Linked DNA regions of Homo sapiens: region 2 is linked to region 1. Evidence: fine-mapped expression QTL. A gene starts in region 1. The other region holds a variant in brackets. All regions are shown on one strand. Distances are between the middles of the regions.

Region 1 (5,382 bases):
CACCAACATTTGTTTAAAAAAAAAAAGAGACAGAGAGATGGGGGTCTCTGCTCTTTTACCCAGGCTGGAGTACAGTGGTGTAATCATGGCTCACTGTAGCCTCAAACTCCTGGGCTCAACTGATCTTCCCACTTCAGCCTCCTGAGTAGCTGGGACTACAAGCATGCACAACCATACCCAGCTAATTTGATTTTATTTGTTTTAGAGACAAAAAATATGTTTTGTCTCTAAAACATATGTTTGCTATGTTGCTCAGGCTGGTCTCAAACTCCTGGCCTCAAACGATCCTCCTGCCTCAGCCTTCTGAGTAGCTGGGATTACAGATGGGAGCCACTGCATCTGGCTCTGCCTTTTTGATTATAGTGATCCTAGTGGGTATGAAGTAGTATCTCATTGTGAGCCGTCTTGTTTTGAAGTTGCATTGGTATATCAAACACATTTTGTAACTGGTTCTGTCTTTTTGATTATAGCAATCTTAGCGGGTATGAAGTGGTATCTCATTGTGAGCAGTCTTGTTTTTAAGGTGCATTTGCATAGCAAACACATTTTGTCACTTACGCTACTTTGGTTCATTTGAGGTAACTGATGAAGGTTATGGAAGCTTAAATAAACTCCTATTCTCCCCTTTGGTTTCACTACTAAGTCCTGGCTGCCTTCTTTGTCAGAGGAATGCCTGCAGGAGGTGGATTAGGCCCAGGGTCCTGCAGTCCTTTAAGGAGAGCCCTTGCCACCCTCCTGTTATTCCCCTAGTTTCCCTTTTCCTCACCTTTGTCTCAGTCCAGAGATGAGGGTGGGTTGCAGGGGGAAAGGGCTGATCAATCTTTTTGACTTTATGCCCCCTTTGTGGCTTTGACGTGGCCTGATCAGCTCACCAGTCGTCTTAGTCCATATGGGCTAATATAACAAAATACCATAAACTGGGTGGCTTTATCAACAACAGAAATGTGTTGCTCATAGTTCTGGAGGCTGGGAAGTCCAAGACCAAGGCATTGGCAGATTCTATGTTTGATGAGGACGGTTTCCTGGTTCACAGATGGTGTCTTCTCACTGTGTCCTCAAATGGTGGCTGTGGGCAAGGGAGCTCTCTTGGGCCTCTTTATAAGGGCACTAATCCCATTCATGAGGGCTCCACACTCATGACCTAATCACCCCCCATAGGTCCCACCTCCAAATACCATCACCTGGGGGTGAAGATTTCAGCATATGAATTTGTGGGGGACGCATACACTCAGACCGTAGCGCAAGTTGGGGACAAAAGCTCTGAGTGTCAGCAGGGTTGCACTGGCTTGGAAATGCTGGAAATCTGGAAATTTCCAGATCAGGCATCACAAACTGCATGATCTAGGGCTCACATTGCATTAACAATGTTGTGTTTGGTCCACAGTGTTTCAAAATTGGAAAACTCGACATAAAAAATCCAGCCTTCTGGCTTTTCTTTAAAAATGTGCAGGCCCAACCATGCTGTTTCCACCTTTCTGCATTGCAGTATTTGGCTGAGGCTGAGCCCTGGCTGCCCTCTGAAGACTGGTGTGAGCTTTCAAATCCCCACAGTTCCCGCCACACACTGTTGCATCACAGTGGGCCCTCTCCACACATTTGTCACCTGTCTCATACTTGAGAATATTTATTAGTGCCCAATTCCTTCAGGGACCTAACAGGGTGAACTTAGGCCATAGTAGGTAACAGGGCTAAATACAGACACTTGGGATCCTGGCTTTCCAGCCATCCCCATACCATCTCCTCATGAGTACAAGCAAGTTTCAGGTGTAATGTGGGCATCTAATTTGTGATTTGTGGTTCTTGATCACTTTTATGGGCCAGCCACTGTTCTAAGAGTTTTGCATATATTAATTCATTTAATCCTCCTAGGAACCCAATCATAATCCCGGTTTACAGATGGGAAAACTAACACCCAGAGAAAACACTTGCTCACAGTCCATGGGTAATAGTTGCAGAGTCAGAATTTGAAGTCAGGAGCGAATGAGGTCATTTTGCAAGGTTGCTCATGACCTAGTGTCTGGTTCATTATGGGGGTTCAGTGGGTGCAAGCTTTATAATATTCATCTAGTCTTGCCAACTGCTGCTAACGTGCTGCATGGCTGAGGTTTAGTCCCAGCCAGATGTCCCATCACAAAAGTTAGGCATTGAAGTGGATGACATTTGTGTTTAGAGAAATGATATGTCTCATTCTTTTCAGCTCTAACTTGGGGTAAGTTTCTGAAAGCAAGTAAGAGAAAAGGAGAGGGACATTTGTGATCTCTCATGTATAGAAGACTAACAAAGAGGCAGGTGGTCACACCTGAAGGCACGTCCCCTGACCCTTATTACATAATGCCATGGGCTAAATGTCCAAAATTCCTCTCCCAGCTCTGATTGGCCTGGCTACTATGATGAGTGAAGTCCACCAGGGAAGACACTGTGGCCTCGTTTCTCATCCTCCTGTCCCCAGGAGTAACACAGAAGCAGCTAGTAACACAACAGCATTGTCCTCACATACACAGGCCTGCTTTGTTTCCCCACCACACAGAGCAGCCGCTGTAACAATGGCCCCGAATGACACTTTACCCTCCTTTCTCCAATGTTGCACTTGTTTTTTTAGTCTGGAATGGGCTAAACAATGATTTCCTGCAGGGGGTATCAGCTTTTTATATTTTCTGCCTGCTTCTCTGTCAGTCTTCAGGCCCCAGGTCAGTGAGTGGCAAGCCAGGCCCAGAGATCTCTGCGCCCGTTGGAACATCCCCTTCTCGGGAGGCTGGAAGGCCATGGTCATTCACCTCTCCCCAGCAAGGTGGGACCTGCCCTGGAAGAAGAAACCAGACCAGGTAACACAAGAGAGACAATGAGAGCTTGGGGCTAGGGGGTGGGGTTGCAGGGGATGGCTGAGTATCCAGCCCAAGGAGGATGGGTTTCTGGCTTCAAGACATCCGATTTTCTTGAAAGCCACCATCTGCTGTTAAATAAATAATGAAAAGCAACAGAGGTCAAGTTCAGCAGCCTCCCAGTTAGAAAAATACCCTCTGTCTGTCTGGCCCTGTTCAGTGCCTCTGATATCTCTGGGTGACCAGGGTCTTCATGGCCCATGTAGATTTACTGAGGTGGCTGTTGCCTTAATAATAGCTGCTAGTACTAAGCTCTTTCTCTATGTATTGCATATGTATACCTATTACTGTATGTCTCTCATTGAATGAATAGTAATGATAGCAAACCCTTATACAACATGCCTCAGATTCTTGCTTCTTTCAAACCCAGGGAGTCGGGTTCTAGAATCTGCGCTTTTCGTCATCATGCCCCTTGTAAAGCATTTTTTTTTACAACATCCTGCTAATAAACCAAGGTCATCACAATATTTCACTTTGAGAGGCAATGATATATGATGATAGCTATGTGTATTGTGAGTCCTTTGCCCTGTGCCAGGCAGCATTCTAACTGTTTTGCAGCTATTTCATCAGATAGATACTTTATGATCTCTATTTTATGGATGAGGAAATTGAAGTACGGATAATTTAAGTCATTCACCCGGGGTCACACAGTTGTTAAATGGCAGAGCCTGGATTTGAATTCAGTTTTCTCTTAAGTAGTATGGGAATCTTAGACCCGCCCAGCCCTGCTGGTCTGGAGTTATTCTGCTTCTCTAGGTCATGGTGTATAGAGGGTGACATTCAGTTTCTGGCTTCATAGAACATCTGCACCCAAGTTGACAGCTTAAGGAATTTTTTCGTTTGTTTATTTTAAATGATTTTTCTATTGGCATCAGCTTTTGTCTTGCTTGAAGAAGATGGAATTGCTCAATGACGACAGTGAAGGAATTTGAAAGGGTAAGAATTGCTCAATGAGTGGTATCTCTTTTTTGGCCAGAGACCAGGCTAAGTTGCCTCATATGTAAGAGAACATACGTCAAATACACAGGACTCATGGTATATTATGGAAGCAAACTTTATTTTTGCCTATCATTGTCCCTAATTTTTTTCAGCAGGTCCTCCCTCTTCCCTTGCCCTGGGATGAAAATTAAGGTAGGTCCACAACTCTTATGGGCCCCCTTCAGGAATCAAAAGTTCTTAAGTCGCTTTTAGTTCCAGCACAGCCTCATTCAGCAATTGGGATGTCCAGTCCCAGGGAATCAGCCAGATCTTTGAATTTGGTTCCCAGTGGAGACTTTTCTCCCTCCTCCAGTGGGGCCTGCAGCTTGGAAAGGGGGTCTGTGGTTGGCTTCTCATTTCCCACGTTAAGCTTCCATCCTTCTCTCCTCTGGCTTACTGATGATTCTGACTCCTGGCAGGGGGAAGGGGAAAAGAGAAGAGGCAGGAAAGGAGCTGGAAGTCCGTACTTGGTTAATGCTGTGGCAAGCTGGCATTTCAGTGGCAGGTTCTGGTGGGTGTGTAAACCTAGTTCTTTCTCTCTAGGCACAATCTTGTGGATACTTCAGAGAGCACCATTATTTCTCATCTTTGGGGATCTCTGAGTTGCTGGTCCCTTGAAGCTGGTTGCCTAATAAGACTCCTTCCTTAGTTCCCTGGCATCTAAGCAGTGCCGTATTAGTTTGCTGGGACTGCCATGACAAAATATCACAGACTGAGGGGCTTAAACCAGCAGTCCCCAATTTTTTTGGTACCAGAGACCAGTTTTGTAGATGACACTTTTTTCCACAGACCAGGGTAGGGATGGTTTCAGGATGATTCAAGTGCATTACATTTATTGAGAACCTTATTTATATTATTATTACATTGTAATATATAATGAAATAATTACACAATTCACCACAGTGTAGAATCAGTGGGAGCCCTAAACTTGTTTTCCTCCAATTAGACAGTCCCATATGGGGGTGATGGGAACCAGTGACAGATCATCAGGCATTAGATTCTCATAAGGAGCATGCAAACTAGACCCCTCACATGCGCAGTTCACAATAGGGTTTGTGCTCCTATGAGAATCTAATGCTGCTGCTGATCTGACAGGAGGTGGAGCTCAGGTGGTAATGTGAATGATTGGGAGCAGCTGTAAATATGGATGAAGCTTCGTGCTCTCTCTGTCCCTGCTGTGTGGCCTGGTTCCTAACAGACCACAGACCAGTACTGGTCCATGGCCCGGGAGTTGGGGGCCCCGGGCTTAAACAACAGAACTTAATTTTCTCCCAGTTCTGGAGGTTAAAAGTCCAAGATCAAGGTGTTGGAAGGTTTGTTTTCTCCTGAGGTCTCTGTCCTTGGCTTGTGGATGGCCACCTTCTCACTGAGTTCTCACATGGTCTTTCCTCTGTGTGTGCATTCCTGGTGTCTCTTGGCATGTGCAAATGTCCTCTTCTTATAAGGACAGCAGTCAGAGAGGATTAAGGCCTACCCTAAGGGGTTCATTTTAACTTAATCACATTTTTAAAGGTCCTGCTTCTAA
Region 2 (5,382 bases), 110 kb after region 1:
GCTGAGGCAGGAGGATCGCTTGAGTCCAAGTGTTTGAGACCAGCTTTAATGAAACCCCAGTTTCTACAAAAAATACAAATAAAATGAAAAGCTGGGCGTGATGATGCATACTGCACTCCAGCCTGGGCAACAGAGCAAGATCCTGTCTCAGAAAAAACTTCTCCAGCAGTTTGGATGAGGTGAGCTCACTTTGAACTAGAGAGTCTGGGACAGAATCCTCAAAGAGTGGTGCCTGGAGTTGAAGTTTGGGTGAGGCTAAGTTCTTACAAGGAGAGCCAGCTGTTTCTCCTTTCCACAGAGAAAAGAACAAGAGGAAATGACTTTTTCAGTTCTCCATTCTACTGAACCCAAATGGTAATAAACTTTTTGATGGAGTATCCAAGTCTGGAGTCAAAGCCTAAATCAGATTCTTTGGGTCACTCATCCCAGCCACCCTGGCCACTTTCTATCTGTAGGGTTAGTATGTACCTGGGAAATACAAATTTATTTAAATAGTAGCCAATGCAAAGGATGACTAGGAAGGTAGATGTTTTATGTAACTGAGTCTTGTAATGCAGTCATTATTATAAGTGGCCTTTCCATTTAAGACATGTCTTTGAAAATAGACTCTAGTTTAAATGTTAGCAGATAGACTTTGAAGTAATTATGAGGAAGAACTTGGGACTGAGGATGGTCAAATTCTAAAACACAGTATTGGATCCAAAGACAGGTTTCTCCACCCTTTAAGAATAAATCTGTCAGGCCAGGTGCGGTGGCTCACCCCGTAGTCCCAGAACTTTGAGAGGCCAAGGCAGGTGGATCACCTGAGGTCAGGAGTTTGAGACCAGCCTGGCCAGCATGGCAAAACCCTGACTCTACTAAAAATACAAAAATTAGCCAGGTGTGGTGGTGTGCGCCTGTAATCCCAGCCAGCTATTTTTGGGAGGCTGAGGCAGGAGAATCGCTTGAACCTGGGAGACAGAGGTTGCAGTGAGCCAAGATCGTGCCACACTGCACTCCAGCCTGGGGGACAGAGAGAGAATTTGTCTCAAAAAAAAAAAAAATCCATCAGAAACGTCTCACCTCAATATAGCGGCCAATGTTGTCCCATGTAAAAGTCAGGGCACATGGTCTATTGATATGAAAACCATAAATCAGAATATTTCCCATTGAAACTGCCTTAGGCACAGCTTGCACATTGTAATATCTCTCAAGGCAAGAAAATGACCTTTCAGAATAGACGTATTCTAGCTAAATCCCCAGGCATCCCAATCAACAATTCTGGCTTCCCTAAATTTCCATCTGCCAGAGTTCGGGCTGATTCTGGGAGTCTTCTTGTTTTGAATTCTCAATGGGGTGTTAGTGCGGTTTTTAACACCCCTCTCCAGCCTCACCCCTGATGTGGCTGCATTTTGGCAGCGAGGAAAAGTCTGGGTTAGAGGTTTGGGTTTCATGAGCCCTTCCAAGAACAAGAGCAGCTAAGCTGACACAAGAGCACACTCTCCCTAAACAGTCTTTTCTGCCACCTCTCCCACTGATTTTATGTAACCGAGAAGAATTAGAAAAGTGTGAAAAAAGCAAGACTGATGTTTGCTGGTTCTTTGAAGAACCTGCTTGCCAATGTTCTTATAAGTGCTTTCAGTCTTTGAGTGTTGGGGTGTGTGTGTCGAAGCAGGGGCCATTGATTCATTGATTTATTTATTGAATAAATGTGGAGTGCTCTGCCCAGTACTGGGCTGTATACTGGGGTGGTCATTGAGTAGGTGGTTTGTGTCTTGGAGATCTTACAGCAGAATGAGAGAGGAACTGGGCAGGTAGTTCTCAGGCAACGCTTTTAGAGGGGTGATGGTGGAATCTGGAGTGCTGGGGGCATGTGGAGGATGGGCACACAATTAGACCTAGGAGAAAATGATATCCAAGTTGAAATCAGAAGTGGGAGCAGGCAGAAAGGGCAGTTGAGGATCTAACGTTCTTGCCACCACCACTCACTCCATGCCCTCCTGCCTCCTCAAACTCCCTGGGAGGACTTTTTCTCGGCAGAAATAAATGCTCAGAGATGAAGTTTC[C/T]GGAAACCAGAGATCAGTTATCTGCAGCCGGCCTGAGACAGGAAACGCACATTTTCCTTCTCTCTCCAACCACCCTGCTTCTGTTCTTGTTGGGAGGGGGGAGGTGGTGTGAAGAAAACCCCAGAGATTTTCAAGGAAAGAGGAGGTTCCAAGAATTGTGTTTGATCTCTGACAGGTCTGAGTTGAAATATCTTCCTTCTGAGTCAGTTGGTTGCCTGAAACCCAAAGGGAAATCCACCTCCGATTTTTCCATCTCTTTAACAGAGTGTTGACTGTAAGAGAGGGGGACCCACAGTAGGGGGGAAGAGCTGGGAGGGGACGGGAGGAAGGTGAGCCTGGATCCAGCTCACAGGCTGATGCCATAGACCAGTCCCAGGCCTGATGCCACGAGGTAATGATAACTGCAGACACTTGCTTAGCCTTTTAGTATATGCCAGGTTCCAAGTGCTTCATATGTGTCAACTCTTTTAAAACTCCCCACACCCTGTGAGATAGATACTGTATCCCTGTCTTACAAGGAGGAAGTACAGATACAGAGAGGTGGAATAACTCACCCAGAGTCATGTAGCCAGTAAGTGCCTGAGCTGGGATTTGAACCCAAGCCTCCCACATGCTTAAACCCTTAGTAAGTGGGCTGCAAGAGCCACACAGAGCTGGCATTATCCAGATTTGGGCTTGATGTACCTGGACATAGGTTCATGAATAGATCATGAGGTAAGGGGGGCATTGCCCTTCTGAGGAGCCTAGTTTTGGAGGGATTAAGATGAGGGCTCTTCTTGGTCTGGGTGACTCTGCCTGATGATGTGTTACTACCTTGTACCTGCTGTGGCTGAGAAACAGACTTGGCTTTCAGGTTAAGAAGGGTTGTTAGAAATGGCAGATTGGAAACCCATGGGGTTGGCGCATGTGGTTTGGCCTAAAAGTTGTTTAGAAATCTGGACATCTCACCTAGAACTCCAGGTTTCCGGCCTCTCTGGAAAGGTCAGATCTGGGCACTGGACTCACGGTCTGGTGTGGAGCCTGTCAGGGGAGCTGAGGCCTGGCTGCTGGCTTTAGAGGGACTTTCTTGGTCCTTACAGTACACACTCACTTGCCTCCCTTCTTTGCCTGCCTGCCCCTGTGGCATGGGGGGTACCACTGCCTGATTAGGTTGGCCTCCATTTGAGTTGGGATCTACCAATGTATGGCCCCTGGCAAAGCTCTGAGCATCGATCTTATCTGCAAAATGAGGATACACTCCTACCTGTGAGGCTGTTGGAGAATTTGAGATTCTGTGTGCAGACTGCCGAGCATAGTGTGCCACATAACTAGGAGCTCAATAAATGCTCTTCGTCAGTTTCCTCCATGTTTCTCACTATTCCCACTGCCACCCACTAGGATGCCGACACCCGAAGGGTGTGAGTACTCCATGTCCTGAGTCAAGGACACCACCTCCCATGGGCTCCCATGGAATGGACCAGAGAAGGGGAGGGGGCCTTTCTATCTGTTCCTGCTTAAGAGAAGCTGCCTCCTTGAAACATATCCTATTGCAGAAGTGAGGTGGGTGATTTCAGAGCATTCAGCAGTCAGGCTAGATGGGCACTGACCAGCTACAGCACTGGGCACAGGACTCTGGAGGACCCCTGCTGTTCCTGGATCTTGAGGCGGTCTGGGCGGATCTCACCAAAGGGCCAGGGTGCAGGGCCAGAGAACTTGGGGCAAACCCTACTTGCCAGATGGCGCAGAAATATTAACTACTGATATGGTTATTCCAACTCATCTTGGCTAACCTGCAGCACTTCTTGCAAGCTGCCTCATCGTCTTTAACCTCATGTGGGAAGAGAGTTGGGACAAGCAGCGGGATTTTGCCACCTTGGGTCTTTCTCTGTGTGCAAGGCAGACTGACTCCATCCGAGGTGATTTCCCTCTGTCACTTCCGCGCTTGCCCACTCTGCTGCCATCCTGCTGTCCCTGCGCCTCTCCACCAGCTTGATTCCAGCTTTTAGTAATGCCTCCTTTACCTTTAAGCCCACAGAAGTGGGAAGTTGAGTTGACAAGACGGTGAGGCGTGAGATCGCAGGTCTGTGTAATAACAGGAAATCCTGTCAACTGGGGTGGTGTCTCAGCTGGTCAGCCTGGGAGGGAGAAAGGGTGAGATAATGTAGACCAGTCAGTGCTTCCCCATTTTTTCCCCCTGTTATGGCTCCTTTTGGCTTCTGGCTGAACTTCACGCCCAGTTTCTCATTTTGGTCAGGCCCCGTGTAAGTGTCCCCTTCACATTACCCTCAGCTCCCGGCTTCCCTTTTTCTAGCTCAGTGGCTTGTGGTGGTGGTTGGTAGCAGCAGAATTCTGTTTTCAAATGAAACCAGGCATGGAAGTCCAATATGTGAAACAGATGGCATATGGGGGCTGCTGAGGCTGAGGGGTTGCTTTCATGTCAGTTACACGTCCCGGCAATTCTTTTCTCCAAAGCTCTGCCTCCACCTTCCTACCTTCTTATCCTTTCATCAGCTAGTCTGGCCCTACCTAACATATTACCTGCTTTATGAATTTCTCCTGGGTCCTCAATCCCAGTGTAGGAAATGCTAGTGTGGCTATACTTGTAGGAAGATGCGAGAAGCAGTGGGCTGGAGTTTTCAAGACCCAGGGCTTCAGAGTCCTGGGTGAAATCATAGTAGCTCATGCTTGCCAAGCCTTGCTGTGGGCCAGGCAGCGTTCTAGCAATTTGATGAGGATTAACCCATTTTACTTGTGCAGTAATCCTGTGAAGTAGGTATCCTTATCCTCCCCACATTCTAGGTGAGGAAACTGAAGTATGAAGAATCAGTGAATTTTCCCGGGTCATTGCTAACAACAGCTACTAAGTGGCTGCCAGGATGCAGAGCCAGGCAGCTCTGGGCTCCCTGATCTCAACAAGACACTTGTTATCTCTGGCCTGTGCTTGCTTGGGTCAGTTTCCTTGTATATTAAAATTGAGGATATTATTGCTGCTTACAGTTCTGTTTTAGGCTTAAATGTGGGAACGCCTACATTGTTGACAGTGGTGTCCAGCACCCAGCAAGTGCTCAATAAACTTTAATTGGAGAAAAAAATGCCGGGTTCCATCCTAGGAGCAATTTGTTTATTATTCGTTATGATGATGATGATTGTTTGTTCTAACAAGTAATTGCTTTTCTGTTGACAGGGCAGCAACCCTAGGATAGAGTGGGAAAAGCGGAAGGAAGGCTGCCAGATTCTAGGCCTGAGCCTCAAAGGAGCTTATGGCCTAGGTATTAGGAATCGGGATTTTCATCTTCCCTGCATCTAGGGAACCACAAACCACAGCCTCTTTAATTTGGCTGTCTCTCTCCAGCTTTTC

What was found.
Region 2: its variant is fine-mapped to the expression of PRR5L in whole blood (TOPMed, PIP above 0.99).

What each region holds. Positions count from the first base shown.
Region 1 is chr11:36,293,617-36,298,998 of GRCh38, forward strand. PRR5L (proline rich 5 like) reads left to right here and starts at 2,672. Exons shown (of 9, transcript NM_001160167.2): 1 at 2,672-2,822.
Region 2 is chr11:36,407,253-36,412,634 of GRCh38, forward strand. All of the region lies in intron 3 of PRR5L (proline rich 5 like), which reads left to right. Among named protein-coding and RNA genes, the nearest start is that of TRAF6, 100 kb to the right of the region's middle. RefSeq lists an enhancer at 3,987-4,281. The variant C/T (reference allele first, on the strand shown) is at 2,046.